Linked DNA regions of Homo sapiens. The protein of the gene in region 6 purifies or fractionates together with the protein of the main gene of each other region. This does not show direct contact. Each region holds a gene or a part of one and is shown on either strand. Other genes may lie near its edges.

What was found.
Region 1: the proteins of ACIN1 (region 6) and BOP1 fractionate together in Homo sapiens (co-fractionation; one large-scale study listed by BioGRID). This does not show direct contact.
Region 2: the proteins of ACIN1 (region 6) and RCC1 fractionate together in Homo sapiens (co-fractionation; one large-scale study listed by BioGRID). This does not show direct contact.
Region 3: the proteins of ACIN1 (region 6) and DHX15 fractionate together in Homo sapiens (co-fractionation; one large-scale study listed by BioGRID). This does not show direct contact.
Region 4: the proteins of ACIN1 (region 6) and SAFB fractionate together in Homo sapiens (co-fractionation; 2 studies listed by BioGRID). This does not show direct contact.
Region 5: the proteins of ACIN1 (region 6) and SNAP91 fractionate together in Homo sapiens (co-fractionation; one large-scale study listed by BioGRID). This does not show direct contact.
Region 7: the proteins of ACIN1 (region 6) and SON fractionate together in Homo sapiens (co-fractionation; one large-scale study listed by BioGRID). This does not show direct contact.

Annotation. Positions count from the first base shown.
Region 1 is NC_000008.11:144,281,439-144,284,938, reverse strand, and holds part of BOP1 (ribosome biogenesis protein BOP1), read left to right. Parts: intron 1-3,500. UniProt on the Homo sapiens protein: Component of the PeBoW complex, which is required for maturation of 28S and 5.8S ribosomal RNAs and formation of the 60S ribosome.
Region 2 is NC_000001.11:28,526,543-28,530,042, reverse strand, and holds part of RCC1 (regulator of chromosome condensation), read right to left. Parts: exon of another isoform or gene 3,430-3,500; intron 3,110-3,429; exon of another isoform or gene 2,805-3,109; intron 186-2,804; 5' UTR 177-185; coding exon 104-176; intron 1-103. UniProt on the Homo sapiens protein: Guanine-nucleotide releasing factor that promotes the exchange of Ran-bound GDP by GTP, and thereby plays an important role in RAN-mediated functions in nuclear import and mitosis.
Region 3 is NC_000004.12:24,557,055-24,560,554, forward strand, and holds part of DHX15 (ATP-dependent RNA helicase DHX15), read right to left. Parts: intron 1-3,500.
Region 4 is NC_000019.10:5,664,583-5,668,082, reverse strand, and holds part of SAFB (scaffold attachment factor B1), read right to left. Parts: intron 1,038-3,500; coding exon 919-1,037; intron 737-918; coding exon 633-736; intron 264-632; coding exon 197-263; intron 1-196. UniProt on the Homo sapiens protein: Binds to scaffold/matrix attachment region (S/MAR) DNA and forms a molecular assembly point to allow the formation of a 'transcriptosomal' complex (consisting of SR proteins and RNA polymerase II) coupling transcription and RNA processing.
Region 5 is NC_000006.12:83,555,744-83,559,101, forward strand, and holds part of SNAP91 (clathrin coat assembly protein AP180), read right to left. Parts: intron 503-3,358; coding exon 410-502; 3' UTR 400-409; intron 1-399. UniProt on the Homo sapiens protein: Adaptins are components of the adapter complexes which link clathrin to receptors in coated vesicles. Clathrin-associated protein complexes are believed to interact with the cytoplasmic tails of membrane proteins, leading to their selection and concentration.
Region 6 is NC_000014.9:23,088,637-23,092,136, forward strand, and holds part of ACIN1 (apoptotic chromatin condensation inducer in the nucleus), read right to left. Parts: intron 1,998-3,500; coding exon 1,886-1,997; intron 1,466-1,885; coding exon 1,346-1,465; intron 1-1,345.
Region 7 is NC_000021.9:33,546,038-33,549,537, reverse strand, and holds part of SON (protein SON), read right to left. Parts: intron 3,326-3,500; coding exon 3,159-3,325; intron 63-3,158; coding exon 1-62. UniProt on the Homo sapiens protein: RNA-binding protein that acts as a mRNA splicing cofactor by promoting efficient splicing of transcripts that possess weak splice sites.

The DNA.
Region 1 (3,500 bases), on a different chromosome or scaffold from region 6:
CCTGTGGAGACCTGGCGACCTGCCAAGGGCTCCGGACCTGCCTGGGTGGACCCAGGGTGGGCGTGCTTCTGGCTGCAGGGCCGGGCCACAGGCTTCCCTCTGGCTTTCTGCCCTCAGGCCTTTAGCATTGACATGCACACGACCCTGCCTCCTTTCTAAGGACTGTGTAGAATTACGTGGCATTCAGTGAGCAGCTGCACGTGGTGTTCTAGGGCACCTTTGGATGCTCAGGTGCTCCTGAGGGGTGTGCCAGGGAACGAGTCTCCTACCCTTCCCTCCTGGCTCCTGTTGCTGCATCCAGGCAACTACTGTTTCCAGTGCTGAAGTCTCTTTCCAGGATGTTCTAGACATATCCAAACTCGCACAGAGTTTTTGAATGGTGGTTTCTTAAGAGAAGGGGCAGCCGTGCGCTGTCTCAGGATGGTTCTGTCAGGGAGGCCATGGCTCTGGTTTGTACAGTGCTTGGTGCCCGTAGAGTGCCTGGCAGCTCGGCCTCAACAGCTCCAGTGGGTGGGCAGTTGCAGGCTTTTGCTCTTACAGTTGACCTGACAGTAACATGCTGTTTCTCACATGTGCACACCATTCTTGGGGAAAATTCCAAGAGAATTTCTAGGTCAAAGGATAAATGCTTTTTTTTGTTTGAGACAGGGTCTCACTCTGTCACTCAGGCTGGAGGGCAGTGGTGCGATGTTGGCTCACCAAAATCTCAACTTCCTGGGCTCAAGGGATCCTCCTACCTCAGCCTCCCTGGTAGCTGGGACTACAGGGTCCCCGCCACCATGCCTGGCTAGTTTTGTTTTGTTTTGTTTTGTTTTGTTTTTTGAGACAGAGTCTCGCTCTGTCGCCCAGGCTGGAGTACGGTGGTGCAATCTCGGCTCACTGCAACCTCCACCTCCTGGGTTCAAGTGATTCTCCCGCCTCAGCCTCCTGAGTAGCCGGGATTACAGGCGCCCGTCATCACGCCCGGCTAATGTCTGTATTTTTAGGAGAGACGGGTTTCACCATGTTGGCTGAGCTGGTCTCGAACTCCTGACCTCAGGTAATCCACCTGTCTTGGCCTCCTGAAGTGCTGGGATGACAGGCGTGAGCCGCCGCACCTGGCCATCAATGCATTTAATTGTGAAGGTGCTTGGAGCGTCCCTCCGCTAGGCGGTGATGCCATGCACTACTGCAGCCGCCCCTCAGCTGCTTTCCCACCACCAGCCTCCCTCATGGTGTTGCTGCTTCATCTTTTCCTCTTGTTTAGTGATGTTTTTCTTTCATTAAGAATGAGGCTCGCACAGCTGGGCTTAACTGAAAAAATAAAAATAAAAAGAATGAGTCACAGGCTGGGCCCAGTGGCTCACACCTGTAATCCCAGCACTTTGGGAGGCCAAGGCAGGTGGATCTCTTGAGCCCAGGAGTTCAAGACCAGCCTGTGCCATATAATGAGACCCCATTTTTACAGAAAATTTAAAAAATGAGCCAGGCATGGCGGTGCGTGCCCGTGGTCCCAGTCCCGGAAGCCCTTCTGTCTCTTCCCTGTGGCGGCATCATCCATGCACTTAGCTGGCTGGAAACCCTCATGGCTGTTGCCCAAGGGCAGGACAGCTAGCTGGTTCTTGTCATTTTGGTCTGAGCTCCCTGGGCCAGGAGCCCTTTGCTGTTTTCTCTCTGTTTGTTTGTTTTGTTATCTGGCACCACAACAAACTGCCCCAAACCATGGAGCCTTTCTTTTTTTTTTTTTTTTTTTTTTTTGAGATGGAGTTTTTTTGCTCTTATCGCCCAGGCTGGAGTGCAGTGGCACAATCTCGGCTCACTGCAACTTCTGCCTCCTGGGTTCAAGCGATTCTCGTGCCTCAACCTCCTGAGTAGCTGGGATTACAGATGCCAGCCACCACGCTCGGGTAATTTTTTTTTTTTTTGTATTTTTAGTAGAGAGGGAGTGTCACCATGTTGGCCAGGCTGGTCTTGAACTCCTGACCTCAGGTAATCCACCTGCCTTGGCCTCCCAAAGTGCTGGGATTACAGGCGTGAGCCACCGCACCTGGCCACCATAGTGCCTTTCAACAACGAGCATTTGCTGTCTGTGTTTCTGGGGTCAGGAGTCCTGGTGTTTTGTGAGGTGCACTCAAGGAGCAGGGTCTGGCTGTGCCCTTTGCAGCTCCTCCCCTGACTGTTGGCATGAGGAGCTCAGGAGTGAAGGTGAAGAAGGGTACTCTGTGTCTGGGGGGTGGTCAGAGGATAGGGATGAGGACAGGGACAGGGCCCAAGAAGATGGGGTGGGTGCTGTACCTCCCCCTTCCTTCCCTGGGGTATCTGTGGGCCACGGCAGGGCCCACAGCTGTTGCTAGTAGCCTCCTTGGGGCCAGTGGGTTTGATTTATTTTTGTGTTTGTGTGGTTTGAGGGCAGGCATCCCTTCCCCACCCTTTGCGTCCCTGCTACAGTGACCCCTCTTTCTGGGTCCACCTGCTCTGGCACGAGCTTGGTGGGCCAGCCTCACCCCAGGGCCCACCCCATCTCCAGCCTCCCTGCCTTGGGCCTGGCAGTCCTGCCTCTTAATTGCGTTCTGTGCCACCTGATGACCCACGAGTTCTGTCTCCTGGCCTGGTTCCTACTCCCTGGGACTTTCTGCAGCCCCTGCCCTTCCAGCTGTTGACTGTGTCTGCGAGCCATCCCACTGGAGGGGCGCCCTGGGCTGTGTGCTCCCTGCCCTGCAGCACCCCTGACACGGGTGCTCCCAGCCCTCCACTGACCAGCCAGGGAGGAAGCTGCCTCCTGCCGGCCTGTGCCTCGCTTCCTGTCCCCTCTCCAGCAGCACACGGCAGCGCGGGCCGCGGGCTCACCGGAGCGAGGACTGGTTGCAGGGCCTTCTCTTTATCGCTGGTGTCTAGTGGATCTGTGGGGTCCGTGCGCTCAGAGCTGTTTTTTCCTTTCTGTGCTCATTTAGATTCATTTTTTTCCCAGCTTTGCTTGGTTTTGTCTTTTCATTTATGTGAGTTTTTCTTTTTATTATTTTGTGCAGAAGTTTCTGTTTTTATCAGTTAATCTGCTTGTCACAGTCAAGAATGTGAGAAAAGACTGGATGCGGTGAGCCAAACCTGTAATCCCAGCACTTTGGGAGGCCAAGGTGGGCGGATCACTTGAGGAGTTCGAGACCAGCCCGGCCAACATGGTGAAACCTCATGTGAATTGCTTGAGCCTGGGAGGCGGAAGTTAGAGTAAGCTGAGATCATGCCACTGCCTCCATCCTGGGTGACAGAGTGAGTGGGACTCTGTCTTGAAAGAAAAAAGCACTAGTAAGAGAAGGCCTAAGACCTAGTATTAAAGTAAGAGAAGGCCTAAGACCTGGTATTAAAGTGAGAGAAGGCCAAAGACCTGGTATGAAAGTGAGGGAAGGCCGAAGACCTGGTATTAAACTGAGGGAAGGCCGAAGACCTGGTATTAAACTGAGGGAAGGCCAAAGACCTGGTATGAAAGTGAGAGAAGGCCGAAGACCTGGTATTAAACTGAGAGAAGG
Region 2 (3,500 bases), on a different chromosome or scaffold from region 6:
CACACCCTTCAGCTTCAAGCCTCAGGAAGAAAGGAGCCCAGTCCCGGGTTCTTAGGGTTTCAAGGGGCCACCTGTACCCACAAAGAGGCCAAGGCCAACTTACCCTTCACCTTCTTGCTTTTGGGGATGGCATCTGCTGGGGGGGACCTTCTTTTAGCTATGCGCTTGGGTGACATCTTCCTGTCCTGAAAGTCAGTCAAATACTACATATGAGAAATGGCAAACATTTTCCTGGGCCAATCAGACAATATTTATCAAACACTCTAGAAATACGTTAAGAGGAATTGCCCAACAATTCCACTTCTCAAAATGTATCCCAAGAACAGAATAATGGATGCACCCACAGATTAATTACACAAATATTCTCTACTGTATCCTTCATAACATTTTAAAAACAACAAAAACAGAACCCGAATGTTCAATAGTAGTGAACTAAATATGTGGTATATTCATGATAGAACAGTATGAAGCCATCAAAAGTGATGTTTTCAGAGATCAATCTATTGAATAGAAAGATGTTCCCCATTGCCAAGTAAAACAAGCAGAATGAAAAACAGACGGCCAGGTGTGGTGGCTCACATCTGTAATCCCAACACTGTGGGAGGCCGGGGCGGGCGGATTACCTGAGATCAGGAGTTCCAAACCAGCCTGGCCAACATGGCAAAACCCCGTCTCTACTAAAAATACAAAAATTAGCCAGGCACAGTGATGGGCACCTGTAATCCCAGCTACTCAGGAGGCTGAGGCAGGAGAATCGCTTGAACCCGCGAGGTGGAGGTTGTGGTGAGCCAAGATCGAGCCACTGCACTCCAGCCTGGGCAACAGAGCCAGACTGTCTCAAAAAAAAAAAAAAAAAAAAAGCCTGGGCGCGGTGGCTCACGCCTGTAATCCCAGTACTTTGGCACTTTCGGAGGCCAAGGTGGGTGGATCACTTGAGGTCAGGAGTTCGAGACCAGCCTGGCCAACATGGTGAAACCCCGTCGCCACCAAAAAAAAAAAAAAAAATACAAAAATTAGCCAGGCATGGTGGTGTGCGACTGTAATCCCAGCTACTTGGGAGGCTGAGGCAGGAGAATTGCTTGAACCTAGGAGGTGGAGGTTGCGGTGAGCCAAGATCATGCCATTGCACTCAGCACTCCAGCCTGGGAGAAAGAGTAGTGAAACTCCACCCCCCAACCAAAAAAAAAAAAAAAAAAAAGGAAGAAAAACAGCCTATCATCCATTTTTTTTTTTTTTGGAAAAAAAATGCATACACAAAAAATATGTGAGAAAAATGTGGGGAAGAAAATATATCCCATATTAACAATGGTAACCTCGGAAAATGGTATTATAGATAATCATTACTTGTTTCGTTTTATCTTCCTATATTATCTAAGATGTTTAACAAGGAGCATTACATGTATTTTTCTGTTTTTTGAGACGGAGTCTCACTCTGTCGCCAGGCTGGAGCGCACAGGCATGATCTCAGCTCACTGCAACCTCCACCTCCCGGGTTGAAGCAATTCTTGTGCCTCAGCCTTCCGAGTAGCTGAGATTACAGGTGTGCATCACCATGCCCTGCTAAGTTTTGTTTTGTTTTTGTTTTTTTGAAATGGAGTCTCGTTCTGTCACCCAGGCTAGAGTGCAATGGTGCGATCTCGGCTCATGCAACCTCTGCCTCCTGGGTTCAAGTGATTCTCCTGCCTCAGCCTCTCGAGTAGCTGGGATTACAGGCACCCACCACCACACCCAGCTAATTTTTGTATTTTTAGTAGAGACGAGGTTTCACCAGTTTGGCCAGGCTGGTCTCGAACTCCTGATCTCAGTGATCCACCCCGCCTTGGCCTCCCAAAGTGCTGGAATTATAGGCGTGAGCCACTGTGCCCAGCCCAAATTTTGTATTTTTAGTAGAGACGGGGTTTCACCATGTTGGCCAGGCTGGTCCCAAACTCCTAATCTCAAGTAATCCACCTGCCTCAGCCTCCCGAAGTCCTGGGATTACAGGCGTGAGCCACTGCGTACAGCCGATTACATGTTTTTTTTTTTTTTTTTTTGAAGCAGAGTTTTGTTCTTATTGCCCAGGCTGGAGTGCCATGGCGCAATCTCGGCTCACCACAACCTCTACCTCCCAGGTTCAAGTGATTCTCCTGCCTCAGCCTCTGGAGTAGCTAGGATTACAGGCATGTGCCACCACGCCCGGCTTATTTTGTATTTTTAGTAGAGATGGGGTTTCTCCATGTTGGTCCCGCTGGTCTTGAACTCCTGACCTCAGATGATCCACCCACCTTGGCCTCCCAAAGTGCGGGATTACAGGCGTGAGCCATCGTGCCTGGCCACATGTATTTAAAAAATTTTTAAGTCTGTTGTAAAAAATTAAAACATTGAAGAACAACATTAAATGAAATATCCATCATAACTCCATTCAACCCCATGTAAGCACCAGTAACTTTGGTAATGTGTTGTTATAATCAGAGGGGGAGAAGAGCTATTTTCTTTTCTTATTTAATTGATTGATTTTTTTTAGAGACAAGGTGCCACCACACCTGTAATCCTAGCACTTTGGGAAGTCGAGGCAGGAGGATCGCTTGAGCCCAGGAGTTCAAGACCAGCGTGGGCAACATGGCGAAACCCCATTTCTATCCAAAAAATTACAAAAATTAGCCGGGCATGGTGGTGCACGCCTGAAGTCCTGGCTACTCAGGAGGCTGAGGTGGGAGGATGGCGTGAGCCTGGGAGGCTGAGGCTAAATTGAGCTGAGATTGTGCCACTGTACTTTAGCCTGGGCGAAAGAGACAGACACTGTCTCAAAAAAACAAAAACACACATGCACTGAAGATCGCGGCTGCTGTGGGAAGGTTACTCTGAGCATCAGTTGCCCGGCATGTGAGTGCCATTCCTTGGGGGCATTTCTGCCACTGCAGCCCTCAGGCCTGCTGCTTCTGGAAGAACAAGTTTGACAAACATATTGTGGTCTGGTTCCGGTCAAGCAAAATTCTGGTACCAGTTCCTCATACCATGCACCTGATGTCACCCAGCATGCGCCCTATTTTAAGGGTACAGCCGTGGTCAATGGAGAGTTCAAAGACCTAAGCCTTGATGACTTTGAGGGGAAATATTTGGTGCTTTTCTTCTATCCTTTGGATTTCTTTCTTTTTTTTTTTTTTTCCGAGACGGAGTCTTGCTGTGTCACCCAGGCTGGAGTGCAGTGGCACGATCTCGGCTCACTGCAACCTCCCCCTCCTGGGTTCAAGCCAATTCTCCTGCCTCAGCCTCCTGAGTACCTGGAATTACAGGCGCCTGCCACGACGCCTGGCTAATTTTTGTATTTTTAGTAGAGATGGGATTTCACCATGTTGGTGAGGCTGGTCTTGAACTCCTGAACTCAGGTGATCCACCCACCTCAGCCTCCCAAAGTGCTGGGATTACAGGTGTGAGCCACCGCGCCCAGCCCTATCCTTTGGATTTCACCTTTGTGTGTCCTACAGAAATTGTTGCTTCTAGTGACAAAGCTAAGGAATTTC
Region 3 (3,500 bases), on a different chromosome or scaffold from region 6:
ATCAATGAACCAAAAAGGGAAACCAGGCTTAGTTAGGGATGGCTCAAGTGAAGGCTGCTAATATGGACTCCAGTTATCACAAGACAGGCGCCACGTAAGAATGAAGGCAATGAGATCAAGGGTCAAGATTGTATAACTTTGCAGGGGTCAGCTATCTCCTGTCCATTCCACACTGGTTACTGATGTCACTATGAAAAACAACTATCTTCCTTTTGGCACCTGGACAAAACACAGGATGCCTTTAGATGCTTAAGTCACAGCTCATCCAGTTAGATAAAAACCCATTATTTTATTTACGGATTTAAAAGTGGTATTAAAAAATCTGAAGCCATCATTTATGAATTCACCATTTTGGCTCTTTTTATGATTAGTCTAACCTAATCTTTCATGGACCAACTGGATATTTTTAGCTCATGCCATCTGCTGGAGCATTAAGTTCAGCAAATTGATAGTGTACAACAAAAAGAAGTGAATTCTCTTTATTTCACCTAAACTTAATTCTAAATTTCATAAACTATTGGCAAACAAATCCATCTTAACTCATTTATATGCTTTATGCTTCTTGTCCTTGGTCATATTTTTAAAAATAAACTACCACATTCCTGGGAGGGACAAACAGCATTAGCTATAAGGTTATTTTATGTAAGACCAGGAAAGAAAAAACACTGCCAATTAAATTATGACTCAGTGCCTTAAAGACAGTAAAGCATAGTGCAAGAATCAGCAACACTATAGCCCTTAGCTGCTTTGAAATTTCTTTGATCTGAGGACGTTTGGTAATTTTTCCTGTCTTCCGATATATCACAGACACGAGAGAGGCAATACTCTTGTACATGATCTCAGTAGCAGAACATAACATACAGCTTCCTCTATTTGTGAGTTACCTCTCTTAGCTTCAATAGAGCGGTCTGTTGATTTGCAAGGCAAAAAAAAAAAAAAAGGATTGGTTACTCTTCCAACATTTGCTCAAATACTAGCATATTTACACCCTATTGCTCCATTTCCCAGCCTCTTGATACTCAGTGCTCATTTCAACATGGAATCATAGTGTAATATTTAATATTTCTGAAGGCATTTAAATTAGCAAATACTCTCAGTATATACAGACCCAACAATTCACATTATTTGAGGTGAAAATATGTACAGCTAGATCGAGTTCAAGCATTCACAGGCAATAATAACCAAACTGCCACCAACTACAAGACCTCAGTAGATTGTGAGACACATTGTAACTTCAGACAATAAAAACTTGAGAAAAAAGTCACAGAAATGATAAAATATGACTTTAAGTTGAAAACTTCTTAAAACTAGTTTTAAAAGTCACCTTCTTTATTTTGATCTTTTTTCTCCTCACATTCCTCAAGCTTTAATCAATCACAATATGGAGCAGAGCTAACCAACAGACATTCCTTTTTATTTTTCTAAGGGAAGAAATGTTACAGATGGCAGACTATAAATATTATAAATTAGATTAATGGAAATATTTTATTGTGCTTTATTAACTATGCATATTGCAAGTACTTAGTTAAATGGCCAAAACTTCTATCATCCAGACAATTCCCAATGGTTCCTCAATACTGATCATCACCCAGTGATCCCATTCCATGAGGTGCTGCACTTAATTACTTCTTGCATCACCAGTTAATATGGGATACTGCTGTTTGTACAATGAATAATTTCAAGAAAAATGAAATTTCAAAATTTCAAAGGTCTCAAGGATATAGTCAAATTTACTTCTTTTCCAGTGAAGAAAACGAAAAAAACCGTAGTCAACTTTTCCAGACTCTCAAAACCAGTTACTAAGACTAGGTATCACTGTACTGATTCCCAGTCCTAAGTCTCTCCTACATTAACACACTCTTCACAAAGTCCCAGATAAAGGAACCCATTGTACGTACAAATTTCATAGCAAAAAGCTATTCGAAAGATATGCCCAGGTCCTAACCTCTGGTACCTATCAACGTGACATTACTCAGAAATAGGGTCTTTGCAGAAGTAATTAAGTTATAAATTTCAGACAAGATCGCCCTGAATTTAAGAGTGGGCCCTAAATCCAATGACCAGTATCCTTACAAAATGTAAAGAGAGGGAGATTTGAACACAAAAGGAAAGCCACGTGAAGATGAAGGCAGAGACTGTGGTTACAAAGCTACAAGCCAAGGAATGCTAAGGACTGTTAGCCACCACCAAAAGCTAGGAGAGAATCATGAAAGACTATTGCCACTTAGAGCCTCCAGTTGGAACTAACCTGCCAACATACTGTTTTTGAACTTCTGACCTTCAGAATTGTGAGAGAATGAATTTGTCAATTTTAAGCCACTAAAAAAAAAAAAAAAAAAAAAGAAACAGTACTTGACGATTTGCTATACTGTTAAATGTATGAAACCCTTTGCTTAACAACAAAAAACTAACTTGACACAGAACTCAGGAAAGGCAGAATCAGGCACTGGAGATAAAAACTACAGTCCATTTTCCTTTATGTAAGAGTCAAGTTTTACTAACTTTCTTAGTAGTAATGAAATATTTATCCAGGCTAAGGAATGAGTCACAATAGTAAAATTTTAAGTTTGAAGTTTCAATGATGAATTAATAAAAGTGCCACAGGATAGCCAAACTCCACACTTTACTGGGTGCCTTACTATCTACAGTGTTTTCCAACTGTTTTAGGGCAGAGATGCTCTTAAAAATTTATTAGCATCACCTTGGAACTAGTAAGAACTACAAAACTTGAGTCTCATCTCAGATCTACTTAATCAGAAATTTTGAAGGTGAGGCATAGCAATCTGCTCTAACAAGTTTTCAAGTGATTCTGATGATTGCTAAAGTTTAAGAAACACTAGTCTAAATTAATCAAATTAAACAAGAAGCAGATTACCTAAAGATGTCTAAAGTAGCAAAAACATCCTTGGAGTAAGTAACAGTTCAGCTTTTCAACTGTGACTGCTTAATAAAATATACCAAAAACCCCATGTACTGAACAGTATCAACCTAGCTTAAGTATTTTTTTGCAACAGGCACATGTAGATGGCGTAGTATAACTACAAGCCAACTGCCAACTATGATCTCAGCAAGATGACGACACCTAACACATCACTAATTCTGATTTGAACAAACCATGGTAAAACATTACATCCTGCAAATATATTACTTATTTATATTTTTGTATTTATATATATGTATATATATTTTATGAAACATTCCAAAAAATTACAAACTAAGCCTAAGAAAGGCAAAAAATCATTTTTATAAAATGAAAACCAGAAATCCCTACCTCAAAGCTTATGATCCCTCCCCAGTAAAATTCCAGCTTGGTTAAATGTTTAAAACAAAAACAAAATAGTAAAATACATGGATTAAATTATTTAAACCAACACTGGGCAGGGTATGATGCAAAACCTGGACATCATAAAAGTGGTTAATTCAATACGTGTACAAAATTCAAGTCTCTATGTAGCATGAAGTGTCATAAAGCAAAGAAATGTATGACAAACTGAGCAAAA
Region 4 (3,500 bases), on a different chromosome or scaffold from region 6:
TGTTGCCTGCAGGCAGGGCCCCTTCCTAATGCCCTCCCCTCCTGAGTGGCAGCAGCCTCCACAGTACCCCATGCCTGGCCTCACGTCACCCTTGGGGGGAGGGGCACTAGCTGGAAGGACTTGGTTGTTAAGCCTCCAGCAAGGTAGGCCAATATGCAAAGCAGGGGGAAGGGGCGCCGCCCCCAGCATGCCTTACCCTGACATTCCTCCTCGGTTCATCATGTGGCCAGGCCCGGAGTGACCGGACATGCTTCTCTCGCCACCTGGAAGACAGACGTGCTTTCACACAGGGAACTTGCGCACACGGCGTGGAACCCACGGCACATTTAGCCCACTCCACTCCCTTTGGTGAGGCCCCCAGGTACCCACAACTAGCGGGTCCCAGGAAGACACCTGGGCACAGGGACCATAGACGTCCAGCTTCCTCCCAGCAGAGAGAACTCGGGAACGCCCACTGTCCAACTCCTGGGCCAGACCACCAGAGAGCAGGCGGTGTCTGGAGTGCTCTTCATTCCTCATTCCAGCACTGAGAGCAGAGCACCTCCTGTGCTCCCCCAAGGAGAGAAGGCGCGGCCTCCATCTTTCCATCACTCCCCAGCACATCCTGGTCCCAGCCCAGAGCTGCTCCTCACCTTGCCACCTCTTGTGATCCCTGTCCATCATGCCCCCGTCGGCCGTGCCCTGCCATGACCGGTCATCCTCTCTTCGGCCATGGTCCCCCCAGTCACGTCTGCCCCTTGAAAGAGAGACATCTCTGATTTGGATTGCCCCCATCTCTGGCTCTTGTGCTAATAACTGTGGCGGCTTCTGGAGAGTGAATCCCTCTGTGTTTCCCACCCTGTGCCCACATCCCAGCGACTTGCGGGCCCCCTTGTGGGCGGGGGGGGGGTCAGGTACTGTCGGGTGTGGGACACAAACCTGGGGGGAGGAGGCAGCCCCCGGCCCTCGCTCATCCTCTTGTCAGAGCCATAGCCCCCCCAGCCATCGCGGGAGTCCCGGCCGTGGCGCTCTGGTCCTCCATGGCGTTCTGGGTAATGCTGGACATCACAGAGCCAGAAGGGAAAAAAAAGCTTCAGTGTCAGCGCCCAGACCCCAAGGCTTTTCAGGCAACATGCTAACGATGACAACGACAGTCACTCGGGACAGAAGTGCTGGCAGGCTGTATCGGTTCACACAACACAGCTGCCTTCCTGAAATCTGCAGGCCAGAGGCCCTGTGCCCTAGGCTCATGGCCTGGTACAAAAAAGGTACTAGTACCAAGGCATCTCCAAGGCAGGTCCCCACAGCACCACCAGAGCTGGGAGGGCCACCAGGAGTCACCCACTAAAGATGATGCTTACAAGAGAGATTCCCTGGGTCCCACAGCTCAAATGGTTAGTTCCCAGAGCCAACAGTATTCTCTTACTGTCTTCTACTAAAGAAAGGTCAGGTTTATAAACCTTTAATGTGTGCATATTCTGGAAATAATTTTTACAAATTTCTTCCTTCCACAGTGAAGGAAGTATCAAATGGAGCCCTTCATCCGACCAATTGCTAGGCAAGCATCCTTCCTCACAGTCAAGTTTCTCGGAAGTTTCTGCTGGATGCCCAGTCCAGGGTCTTGCACCTTGCTCTGCTCAGGATATAAGACACAGGACACTGAGAGATAAACGGCTGGCCTTCCACTTGGCTAGTCCCACCTTTCCCTCTTCTGTGTCATTGTTTTTGTAAGCCACGTGGCTAACACAGACCAGGAGTTCTTGACCCTGCTGTTTCAGGGAAGACCAAGAGAGGGCGAGTCACACTCTATGCCTACTTATTTGATGGCCAAGGTTAATATTTACACCCACAGCCTATTTCTGTGGCTGGAAGCACTTTCCAGCCTGACTTTCACAAAAGCTAGTGAGGTAGCTTTGGCTCCACAGTCCTGTTTTTTCTCTTTCCACCAATACATATGTGGTCTCTGGGGTTTTTGCCCCATGACCACATTGTAGGTGAAAGGAAACTAGAAAGGAGTCCTGGTAAGGAAACCCCCTTGACACAGGCTGGTTGTTGTCCATGTCCAAGTTCACCTCCCCGTTCAACGGAGAGCTCTGCCAGGGTGAAGGGAGAGATGGCGGCATGCTCCACCACGTGCACGATGTCCCACGTTACCACTGCCTGCTTCCTGGCCTATCCTCCCAGCATGTGCTCTGATGCCTCCCCTCAACAAAGTAAGAAAAGGGACTCCTGAAATAAGCTCTCCTTAGTATTTGAAAATTGAACCAACATTTTTCTGTCCAACCAACCCACGTAACTGTTCAATGAGGCCCATAAGTTCTGTGCTAGTTTTCTCTGTAGGGAGATGTTACCATTTCCCTTTGGGGTAACTCTGACGACTCATTTATGACTGTGTATGTGAGGAGAAGGGATCAAACCGCGTTCCACTGTTAGGAGAGCATATCTAACACCTTCATGAAAGCAGCTGGTGGCCAGGTGTGCTGGCTCACATCTGTAATCCTAGCACTTTGGGAGGCCGAGGTAGGAGGATCACTTGAGCTCAGGAGTTCAAAACTGGCCTGGGCAACATAGTGAGATCCCGTCTCTATTAAAAAAAAAAAAAAGTAGCTGGCAATGATAAACACGTTTGTACAGATGCGCCCACCTCATGTAAACCCCCACCACCGCACCCTTTGTAGGAGGAATATTACCCTCATTTCACTCCTGGGGAGACAGGCTCAGCAGGAAGGGGTGACACCAAGGTGTGACGCCAGTTCTGATTCTGGAGCCTTTACATGGAACCATTGGTGTATGCTCCTCCACCAAAGAAAATCCACAAGACTAGTTCTACGTTTTGCTGCATATAATTTGCCTCCAGGAGCAGGGAAAAAGGAACCCCACGAGGCTGATGGAATTCCTGAGGATCCCGAGACAGAGCTGAGTACTTGGCTATGCTCAGCCACATTAAGGAACCAAGGGGGACAGAAGCGGGAAGCTTATGGTGGAGTCCAGAAAATGCTGGCAGGAGGAGGAAGGGCTCATGAGTGGAGTCCTCAGAGAGGAGGCATCTTCCACACAGCAATGTGCTGCCCCCAAGTTTATAGGGAAAGCCACTAGAGGTCCAAGGCTCTCCTGGGAAGTCTCAGTCTCAATGTAAGATGGAAGGAGAAAATGGAGCTTATTGTTCTAATGTGCTAGCCCCCGAAGAGAATGAGCACAGACCACAGATCTAGTTGTTTTCCAAGGCTAAGCTGGGCCCTGGGGTGATGAAGGATGTCCTTACTTTCAAAAGAGGGCAGGCACTCGAGGACAGACACAGCAACCACAGCCTCCCCAGATGCACCTGTCTGAGTCAGCTGTGCGGCTCACTAGACACTTCCCAGCAGAGCCAGGTCACATCCCAAGGTTCCCTGGCACTGTTGCACATGTGTGGTGAGTGTGGCACACAGAACCCCAGGGTCAAGGCTAAAAACAGCTTCAGAGTAACTGTTTGGACTGACAGCCAAGACTAACCCCAAATAATCCCAAATTTCCATTCCACA
Region 5 (3,358 bases), on a different chromosome or scaffold from region 6:
AAATAAAAATACAATTATGCAGTCAAATATATTCTTAGATGATTTCTAAATGCAATAGTATAAATGTTAGCTTTCTATAAATTCAAGTCATCATGTAATAAAGTGGTAATTTTCTAATTTACCAAGTAGCTTGGGCACCTTTTTGCTTTATTAAAGCTAATCGTTGTGCTTTCCAGGATAAGGACAATTTGGAGGTTACTTTCCCTCCTAGTTACATAAATTAAGATTTAAAAAACTCTTAAAGAGAGCTTTTAATATCAAATTTAAAAGTATAAACACTCAAATTATTACTATTATACACAGCTATTCAAAACGCAGAAATAATGAGTACCTCTGAAATAGCTAAGCATTGTATAGCTCATTATTACAAGCCTACAGGAAAAGCTCAATATTAGATACCTTAAATTGTTTACAAGAAATCCTTGATGTTAAGATCCGCTAATGGGTCCTTTGCTGGAGGTTTCTTGGGACTCTGACTGGCAGGTGTAGGGCTTGGAGAAAGCTAATGGGAAAAAGCCAGCCCCAAAGAGCAGGAATAGAAAGCAGAGAGAGAATGAGACATGGGGGGAAGAGGGGGCAGGGGGAGAGAGGGAGAGGGGGAGAGAGAGAGAGAGAGAGAGAGAGAGAGAGAGAGAGAGAGAGAGAGAGAGAGAAAAGCATTAGGCAGAACACATATCAAAGAAAACAAACCTGCAGAAGATTAGATGGTTAAAGGCTTATGAAATCTACTTGTTCTACATAGTCACAGAGTTGTGTTTAATTCTGGACTGGTAAAATATACTTCAACTGATATTTGGCTTTCTTGAACTTCTCTGACATCAGATTTAGCCAAAGTAAAATTTGGGGACTCCAGTAGAACAATATGGGTATGACTTAGGGAAGATGTGAAACACTAGTAACATAAAGATATTATGAACAAACAGTAAAACAAACAAACAACCGTTTTCTCTATACAAAAGCATTTTTACTTTCAGTCATTAGTACCTCTAAACTAATAAATCTATTTAAATGGCTTTTCCTGTAGTGAGAGTGAATTTGAAGGAAAAATAGGAAACGGTTTGCAGAAAGCTATTTAAGAAATTACTTACACTTATTAGCTAAATATACTAGAATTTCATATACATTATTTTAAGTGAAAATCAGTCAAGTTTGAGGGCACTGTTTGTTTCACATGACCAAATAGTTTCCTGGTAGTGAATGCCACTAAAATTCTAATGCAATCTATTCAGCTCTCAGAGAAGGCCAAAACTAATTATTAAATACTATAGGAAAGAATCATATTGGACTTGTTGCAAAAGTAACAAATAATTAACTTGCCTTGTTTCTGTTTAACCAGAATCTAAATTATTTTTTCATTGTGTCACAGATATAACTTCTGGGAGCTGACTTTTACAGGATACAAGGTCTTGAAAAATCTCATGTAGTTTATAGAGTAATAGTTGACATCTAGGCTTTGAGTCTAATTAATCTCCTATGCTTGTAGTAACATGCTGGGACTGTGGGGCAGTGTTGTATATTTTTATTAGTTCAGTGAACAGAGTTCCAGAAGTATGGATTTTGAGATTTGGTCCTATGTCCAGAAACTACTGACTAATTATATTATCTATCTGTCAAATTTCCATGTTTAAAACTGGGATATGGGCTGGGTGTGATGGCTCACATCTGTAAAATCCCAGCACTTTGGGAGGCCGAGGCAGGAGGATCACTTGAGGCCAGGAGTTCGAGGCCACCCTGGGCAACAAGGCAAGGCCTCATCTCTACAAAAAATAATAAAAAAAAAAATAGCTGGGCACAGTGGCTTGCATCTGTGGTCCCAGCTACTCGAGAGGCTGAGGTGAGAGGATCCCTGTTGCCTAGGAGTTCAAGGCTGCAGTGAGCTATGACTGCACCACTGCACTTCAGCCTGGGCAACAGAGTGAGAACCTATCTCAAATAAACAAATAAGCAAACAAAAAAATAACAACAAAAAACCTGGGATCTGTTTCATAGAGAGAGATATATATATAAATAAAGTAAGGCTTGAACTTCCTTAAATCAATTCAAAGATTGGTCCATAATTGATAATTAGGTGAGATGACAATATCATGATACCAGCCAATGAAAGAATGCTGCGATAGTCCAGGCATCAGTAATAAAAAAACTACTTTGTTTTCTGAAGCTACAAACTCACATTTATTTTATTATCTAGTATAATTATGCTTCTTCTCTGATATAGGAAATATAATCTAAAAATTACATAAATATGGTGTATCATTACCTGGCTTATTATGAATTCAATTACTGATTGAAACAATGTATTCCCATCATACTATCTATTTTTCATTTTCATTCTTCTAATTAAGTAAATAAATTGTTGCTAACTTTGGTATTACACAATAAAAACAACTGCCTTAAGTAATAAAATTATATTTATTTATTTCTGAAGCTTTCAGTATATCAAACACAATAAGGTTAAAAGAAATCTCAGTAACATTGTTCCAAGTGCATAATAACAGAAATATTTCTTTTTTTTCAAAAAGATGATAGTCATGGAACTATTCAAACATCAAGGAAATATTTATGATAAATGAGATCCCTTAGAATTTAAGTATATCTAAGTTATACCTAACCTCAACCATTATACCCAAAACCTTCCTGACTGTCCCCAAAAACAACACTACACAGGGTTCACCAGTCTTCACATAGACTAGAAAATTTCTCCTGAAGCCAGTTATGGCCAGTAATGGCCATGAAGGCTAGGGTTTCTCACATTCTAAATTTCTGTCTTTCAACATCCACCATTCTTTCTCTTGGTCCCTGTTGCTTTTGAGGGGCAAAGTGAAGAAGCTGAAAGGAAATTTTGGGAACAGGTCAATGGATTTAGAGATGCATCAAGGAAGCAAAAGGGATTAAAGTATACTCAGAAAGTTCACAGCAGCAGGTATTCCATGGATAAGACAGTATAAATACTGATTTGATAAGTTAAAAATATTATAGGACTGAAAACATTTACTCATATCATTAAAATATATTTGAGCTATTTGCTCTAGTTTGTAAAGCATGCTGCTACCAAAGTAGTAATTTGGTGTCCTGCCCATCCAAGTCAATTTCTCATGATGAAAACTTCTTTGGTTCTACATGTAACATCACCTTGGCCAGACAATTTAAAAGAGGAATCAGGAAAGCATGATTCATCACTAAGACTAGCACCACTAGCAGCAAAACGGTTCAACAAAGTGTAACATATTTTGGCATTTTTGAAGGGTAAGTAGCACAGTGTGTAGTAAGGAATTTAGCTTTACCTAAACTGAGGTTTTTTCCTTTGCCCAGAAAGGGAACCTCTAAATCCTTATAATTTCTCAAATGATAGGCATGTCTT
Region 6 (3,500 bases):
GATTCCGCATCCCCCTCAACACTAATTATTCAAAATACTTGTTAAGTTACACATTGGTTTAACATATGTACTAACAATCCACATGTCTTATATACATATTAAGTATCCCTTTTCCAAAATGCTTGGGATCACAAGTGTTTTAGATTTTGGATTTTTGAATATTTGCATTATACTTTCTGATTCAGCATCCCTAATCTGAAAACCCAAAATCTGAAATGCTCTGATGAGCATTTCCTTTGAGTGTCATGTGAATACTCAAAAAGTTTTGGGTCTTTGGATTAGGCATGCTCAACCTGCACATATTTTCCTCAAAGTATACTGACTTAGACAGGTAGTTCCCAAAAGACAAAGGCTATATTTATAGACTTTTGCTTGAGATATTATGCAAAATTGGGTGCCTATTATGATTTTATGTATTTTTTGAGACACAGTCTCGCTCTATTGTCCAGGCTGAAGTGCAATGGTGCAATCTTGGCTCACTGCAACCTCTGCCTCCCGGGTTCAAGCGATTCTCCTGCCTTAGCCTCCCGAGTCACTGGGATTACAGGTGCCTGCCACCATACCCAGCTAATTTTTATATTTTTAGTAGAGACAGGGTTTTGCCATGGCTTTTTCACGGTTTTTCCAGGCTGGTCTGGAACTCCTGACCTCAGGTGATCCTCCTGCCTCAGCCTCCCAAAGTGCTGGGATTAGAGGCGTGAGCGACCACACCCAGTCTGGGTGCTTAATATTTTCTATAATGTGAAGAAATTAATTAATCTTGCCTGAACCAATCCCATATACTAGGTTAGAGCTCCCTACTATAATATGCTCACATAATACTCTGCGTTGCCTTGCACAGTAGCCAAAACAACTGTAACTAATGTCCATGTCCTCACTAGACTAAGTTTCTTGGGGCTGAGACTTGTTTCTTTCTTTACTATATTCCTCGTGCCTAGCATGTGCCTGGTATACAACAAGTACACAATAAAAATTTGTTGATTAAACCACAGCAGATACCCAACTCCAGAGGGTGACTGAATGTGTTAACACGTAATATACACAACTGGTGAAGAGATGAAAAAGAGCTGACTGTTGCCAAATTCAGAGGTAGAAGAGTTGAAGAGGTACAGATGAGAAGAAAAATCACACTGCTTCGTAAAACACTGAGAAGGTAACACAATATATAGGTGAAAGCAGACTTCAAAAAGGGTATACTTTCCATGAGAAACAGATGTCAAATATCAATGTCACAGAATTTCCCTGGGACTTTCATGGAGGCTTAGCATGAAAGGAGGTGTAACTACCTCCCCCCACCAACTACGCAGGATTGACAAAACAGCGCAGTGGGGAGGGAGATACGTACTGGGCGAATGTCTGCTGAGCTCCAGCTCTGGTCTCTCCAGGCTGCTCTGAAAGTCAGGAGGCAGCAGGGAAGCCACTCCCTCAGGATGGATCATCTCGTCCTCCGACTCAGCTGAAGCTTCTGCAAAGTACAGATCGGGTCGGGGCAGGGAGGGAGTGAAGGACTCAGCATGTAGGAATATGTAGAGGAGTGAAGGAGGTCAGGCAAAGTCACAGATACAGAGATACATACCAAAAAGAGCACCGTATAAAAAGAAAAAACTCCCTGGGATTCAGCTCTACTTCATCTAAATGGTAGCTTAATTTACTTATAACTCTTCCTGTTGGCAGGAATCCTCTTCTAACAAGACAGTCAAATTAAGTGTCCTCTTCCCTGACAAAAGTAAATAGTAAACCACTTGGCTTCATGGGCTATGAAAGCAAGTAAGTAGCAGTCTCAGCCTCACTTATTTCTGAAATTGTCTAGTTAGACAGGCCTATCTACTTGGTGACAGGGATAAGAATGACGAACTCCTTGTTAAAAGTGACAATCTGGGCTTACCTTCAAGTTCTGCAGCTTCTCGAGCTTCACGTTCCAGACGCTGCCTAAGTAGCTCCTGCTGCTTTTCCAGATACTGTTTTATGAAACTGTTCTGGCTCATTTCCTCACCAATCTGTGTAGAGGAAATGAAAACAGAGGGTCTAGGAAAACAAACCAGGAGAATGCAAAGAAGAACATTCCATGGAGCAAAGGTCCACTCCTTATAGTTGCGCCCAAGAAAGATAACTAAAATGTTGGAAGGCTTTTTTCTAAGTTAGTTCTATATTGAAGAACAGAATAGCCTTGAGTCACACACAAAAAAAGGGCAAAAAGAAGAGCTGCACATAAGTTTTTGATTTAAATATTCAGTTCCCAAAGAGTGATACTGGTATACAAATTACTATTCTTTATTTTTATTTTTTGAGACAGAGTTTCACTCTGTTGCCCAGGCTGGAGTGCAGTGGCGTGATCTTCCCTCACTGCAACCTCTGCCTCCTGGCTTCAAATGATTCTCCTGCCTCAGCCTCCTGAGTAGCTGGGATTACAGGTGTGCACCACCACACTCGGCTGATTTTTGTATTTTTAGTAGAGACGGGGTTTCACTATGTTGGTCAGACGGGTCTCAAACTCCTGACCTCAAGTGATCCACCCGCCTCAGCCTCCCAAAGTGCTGGGATTACAAGTGTGAGCCACCGTGCCCAGCCACAAATAACCTTAAATTAAAATTCCTGTAATTATATCTTTTAGGCTAAATTCCTAGATTACGTGGAACATTATCTAAAGGGTAATCTAAAATTTCCTTTTGGTAGTATCAAGACTGAAACATGGGGGCTCACGTCTGTAATCCCAGTACTTTGGGAGGCTGAAGTGGGAAGACTGCTTGAGCTCAGGAGTTCAAGATCAGTCTCAGCAACATGGCAAAACCCGTCTCTACCAAAAATACAAAAAGGTGGGCATATTGTGGTGTGAGTCTGTCATCCTGGCTACTCAGGAGGTGGTGGGTGCAGTGAACTGAGATCGTGCCACTGCACTCCAGCCTGGGTTAAAGAGCAAGACTCCATCTCAAGAAAAAAAAAAAAAAAAGCCAGTTCCTCCAAAAGATCAACCGTTACCTATCCAGGAAACATTTTTTTTTTTTTTTTTGAGACGGACTATCACTGTCATCCAGGCTGGAGAGCAATGGCGCGATCTTGGCTTGCTGCAACCTCCGCCTCCTGGGTTCAAGACATTCTCCTGCCTCAGTCTCCTGAGTAGCTGGGATTACAGACATGTGCCACCACAACCAGCTCATTTTTGCATTTTTAGTATAGACGGGGTTTTGCCATGTTGGCCAGGCTGGTCTCAAACTCCTGACCTCAGGTGATCTACCCGCCTTGGCCTCCCAAAGTGCTAGCATTACAGGCGTGAGCCACAATGCCCGGCCTCATATCCAGGAAACATTTTATCAAACAACTCCAAAATTCAAGTATAGTATTTAAAAGTATGAAATCAAGAGACTAAGAAAAGGGATATCCATTCAGCATTTAGACAAAGTTATAACTCCATTTTGTCTGGGTGAAAGGAAATCCTTGGTAACAGGAGCTTATGCCTTTTCCTATTTTTTTTTTTTTGTAATACAGATTCCCAAGTTGCCCTT
Region 7 (3,500 bases), on a different chromosome or scaffold from region 6:
TTCATCAGTAGGATCTGTTTGTACAGATACGCATCTACTTTTTCTGGAGCCCTCTTTCAAGTCTAAAAGTAATAGAAATTAATTTTGTCAGACATTCCCCAAAGTAGAGTTAGATTAAATCATATAAACCCATATTTACATTCCATGTTAAAACACCTTAGTACAGGCCAAGTACAGTGGCTCACGCCTGTAATCTTAGCACTCTGAGAGGCCAAGGCAGGTGGATCATGAGGTCAGGAGTTCAAAACCAGCCTGGCCAGCATGGTGAAACCCCATCTCTACTAAAAATACAAAAATTAGCCAGGCATGGTGACGCGCACCTGTAGTCCCAGCTATTTGGGAGGCTGAGGCGGATCACTTGAACCCAGTAGGTCGAGGTTTCAGTGAGCTGAAATTGCACCACTGTACTCCAGCCTAGGCAACAGAGCAAGACTCTGTCTCAAAAAAAAAAAAAAACCCCACAGTATAACACCTCACGTTAAATTAAAAGTTACCAAATAAACTATTTTTCATAAAACAGTTAACCTGGAGACTACTACTTTTCTGATAATTCTTTCCACAACTAATGCCTGGGTTAAAAATAAATTATTAAACACCAAAACTTACTTTGAATTACATTAAGACATGTTTCACTAAATTCTATTAAAATAATTATTCCCTCCAGCTCTCAAATCATAGCAAAATTACTTTTAAACTACTTTTGTCACTGAATATATTTCATGTTATTAGTTGCTACAGTTTCTATTAAAAATACCCACATAATATAATTTTTGCGATTATTAACCCTTGTTTATACAGGAAGCAACATGGCACTGGCTCTGGAACAGACTGCCACTTTTGAATCCTCAATCAGTTCATCACTTACTAGGTTAATGGTCTTGGCCAAATTACTGACACACTTGTGTCTTCTAGAGTTAGAGGATAAAGTGAGTTAAAACATGCAAAGTACATCAAATAATGCCTGGCACAGAATAAGCTTTCAACAAAGGTTAGTGATTGCTTCTACAGAGTATAAAAATATCTGAATAACAAATATAAAATATTCATAGAGAACTCAAATTTTACCTTATCATGCCTACGTTACATTCTAATAAAAATAATATTTTCCCCCAATACTATTCTGAAACCACTAAAATAACTTTTTAAATGTTTCTGTTTTAGAAAAGGATACTGATTTTAGAGAGGAAATTCTTAGTCCTTATAACTTAAGAAAGTTTGAATTTACATACCCTAAAGAGATAACATTTTCCCCCAATACTATTCTAAAACCACTAATAAATAACTTTTCAAATGTTTCTATTTTAGAAAAGAATACTGATTTTAGAGAGGAAATTCTTAGTCCTTAATTTACAACTTAAGAAGGTTTGAATTTACATACCCTAAAGAGATGGGAGTATTCAACTTTAACAACCAGATGGGATTTATTTACTCTAATGCCAATATCAAATTAGATAAATCTTAGGGACCCCCAAAAAAGCTCATCAGAAATCTGAGCCATTAAGACTACAGAAAAAAGGCCGGGCACTGTGGCTCACGCCTGTAATCCCAGCACTTTGGGAGGCCAAGACGTGTGGATCACGAGGCCAGGAGATCAAGACCATCCTGGCTAACACGGTAAAACCCCGTCTCTACTAAAAAAAAAAAAAATACAAAAAATTAGCCGGGCGTGGTGGTGTGCGCCTGTAGTCCCAGCTACTCCGGAGGCTGAGGCAGGACAATGGCGTGAACCCGGGAGGCGGAGCTTGCAGTCAGCTGAGATCACCCCACTGCACTCCAGCCTGGGCGTCAGAGCGAGACTCCGTCTCAAAAAAAAAAAAAAAAAAAAAAAAAAAGACTACAGAAGAAAATAAATCAACACTTGACATAGGCCAAAGCAAAACTTACCATTTTCTATTAATTGTTTGTTTCATAATACAAAATGTTAGATAAGTCATACTTCAATGAAGGTTGTTAGAGCCATGAATCTAAGCAAGTCTGTTTGAGAGTCATGAATCTAAGCACAGCTAAAGTTCCCCCCAAAAAAGAGGACAAACCAACCATATTACAAACTTGATTCCAGAACTAAATCAAGGTAATGACTGTTATTTTTGTGGCTAAATCCTTCATTTCTAAACATCAATTAATCAATTCCAAAAACGCTAAATATTCAAGCAATGATTCCTCTCCATCCACTGCAGTTTAAGTGGGATGGGTATTTTTACACAACTGTTTAATAAAAATCCATACTCAAATTCCTGATACTAAGAAACTTAATCAAGCCGGGCGCGGTGGCTCACGCCTGTAATCCCAGCACTTTGGGAGGCCAAGGTGTGCGGATCATGAGGTCAAGAGATCGAGACCAGACCACCCTGGCCAACACGGTGAAACCCCGTTTCTACTAAAAATACAAAAAAAAATTAGCCGGGCATGGTGGCAGGCGCCTGTAATCCCAGCTACTTGGGAGGCTGAGGCAGGAGAATCACTTGAACCTGGGAGGCGGAGGTTGCGGTGAGCCGAGATCACGCCATTGCACTCCAGGCTGGGCAAAAAGAGTGAAACTGTCTCAAAAAAAAGAAAAAAGAAAAGAAAAGAAAAAGAAACTGAATCAAATAAACTGAAACTAAGTCAAAAATAAAAATTATATTCTACCAGCAGAGTAAACAAGTACATCAATGTTTGTTTTCCAGTGGAAGTATGGAAGGAAAATTTAAACAAGAAAGTCTTCATTAAATCAATTAAACAAAAGCTTAAATTTACTGAAAAAAAAATTTTTTTTTGAGATGGAGTTTCATTCTTGTCGCCCAGGCTGGAGTGCAATGGCGCAATCTCAGCGCACTGCAACATTCGCCTCCTGGGTTCATGCGATTCTCCTGCCTCAGCTTCCCAAGTAGCTGGGATTACAGGCACCCACCACCACACCCGGCTAATTTTTGTATTTTCAGTAGAGATGGGGGTTTCTCCATGTTGACCAGGTTGGTCTGGAACTCCTGACCTCAGGTGATCCACCCACCTCAGCCTCCCAAAGTGCTGGGATTACAGGCGTGAGCCATCGCACCCAGCCTAAAGTTTTTAATTTAATAAATATCTTAAATACTGAAGTCAAAAACTAACATTAACCTTCAAATTTCAAAAAAATCTTAAAAGAAAATTTTTGAGACAGTTAATTATCTCCAACTTACCTGGCTTATATCGTAGTTCTGTATCTAAGACCCCAGAAAGTACTTCCTCTATCTTCTGCACTATTTCTTCATTTGGTAGACTCCTGGCAGAGGCAGCTGCATCACCCGCCTGGTTTCCTTCAATGGGTGTATTTGTTTCACCATTCAGCTGGCCTTCATTCCTTCCACTTGACATGAAAAGTTATCGAAATTCATTAATATTTTATCATACCATTAATAAAAAAATCCAATTAATTACAATAATCATATGTTGTACTGACTGTCAGATGTTTTACCTTTTTCCTATTTTAGATATTCACCACTAATAATGCTTCTTACCATGATCTACTTATATTTTGGACA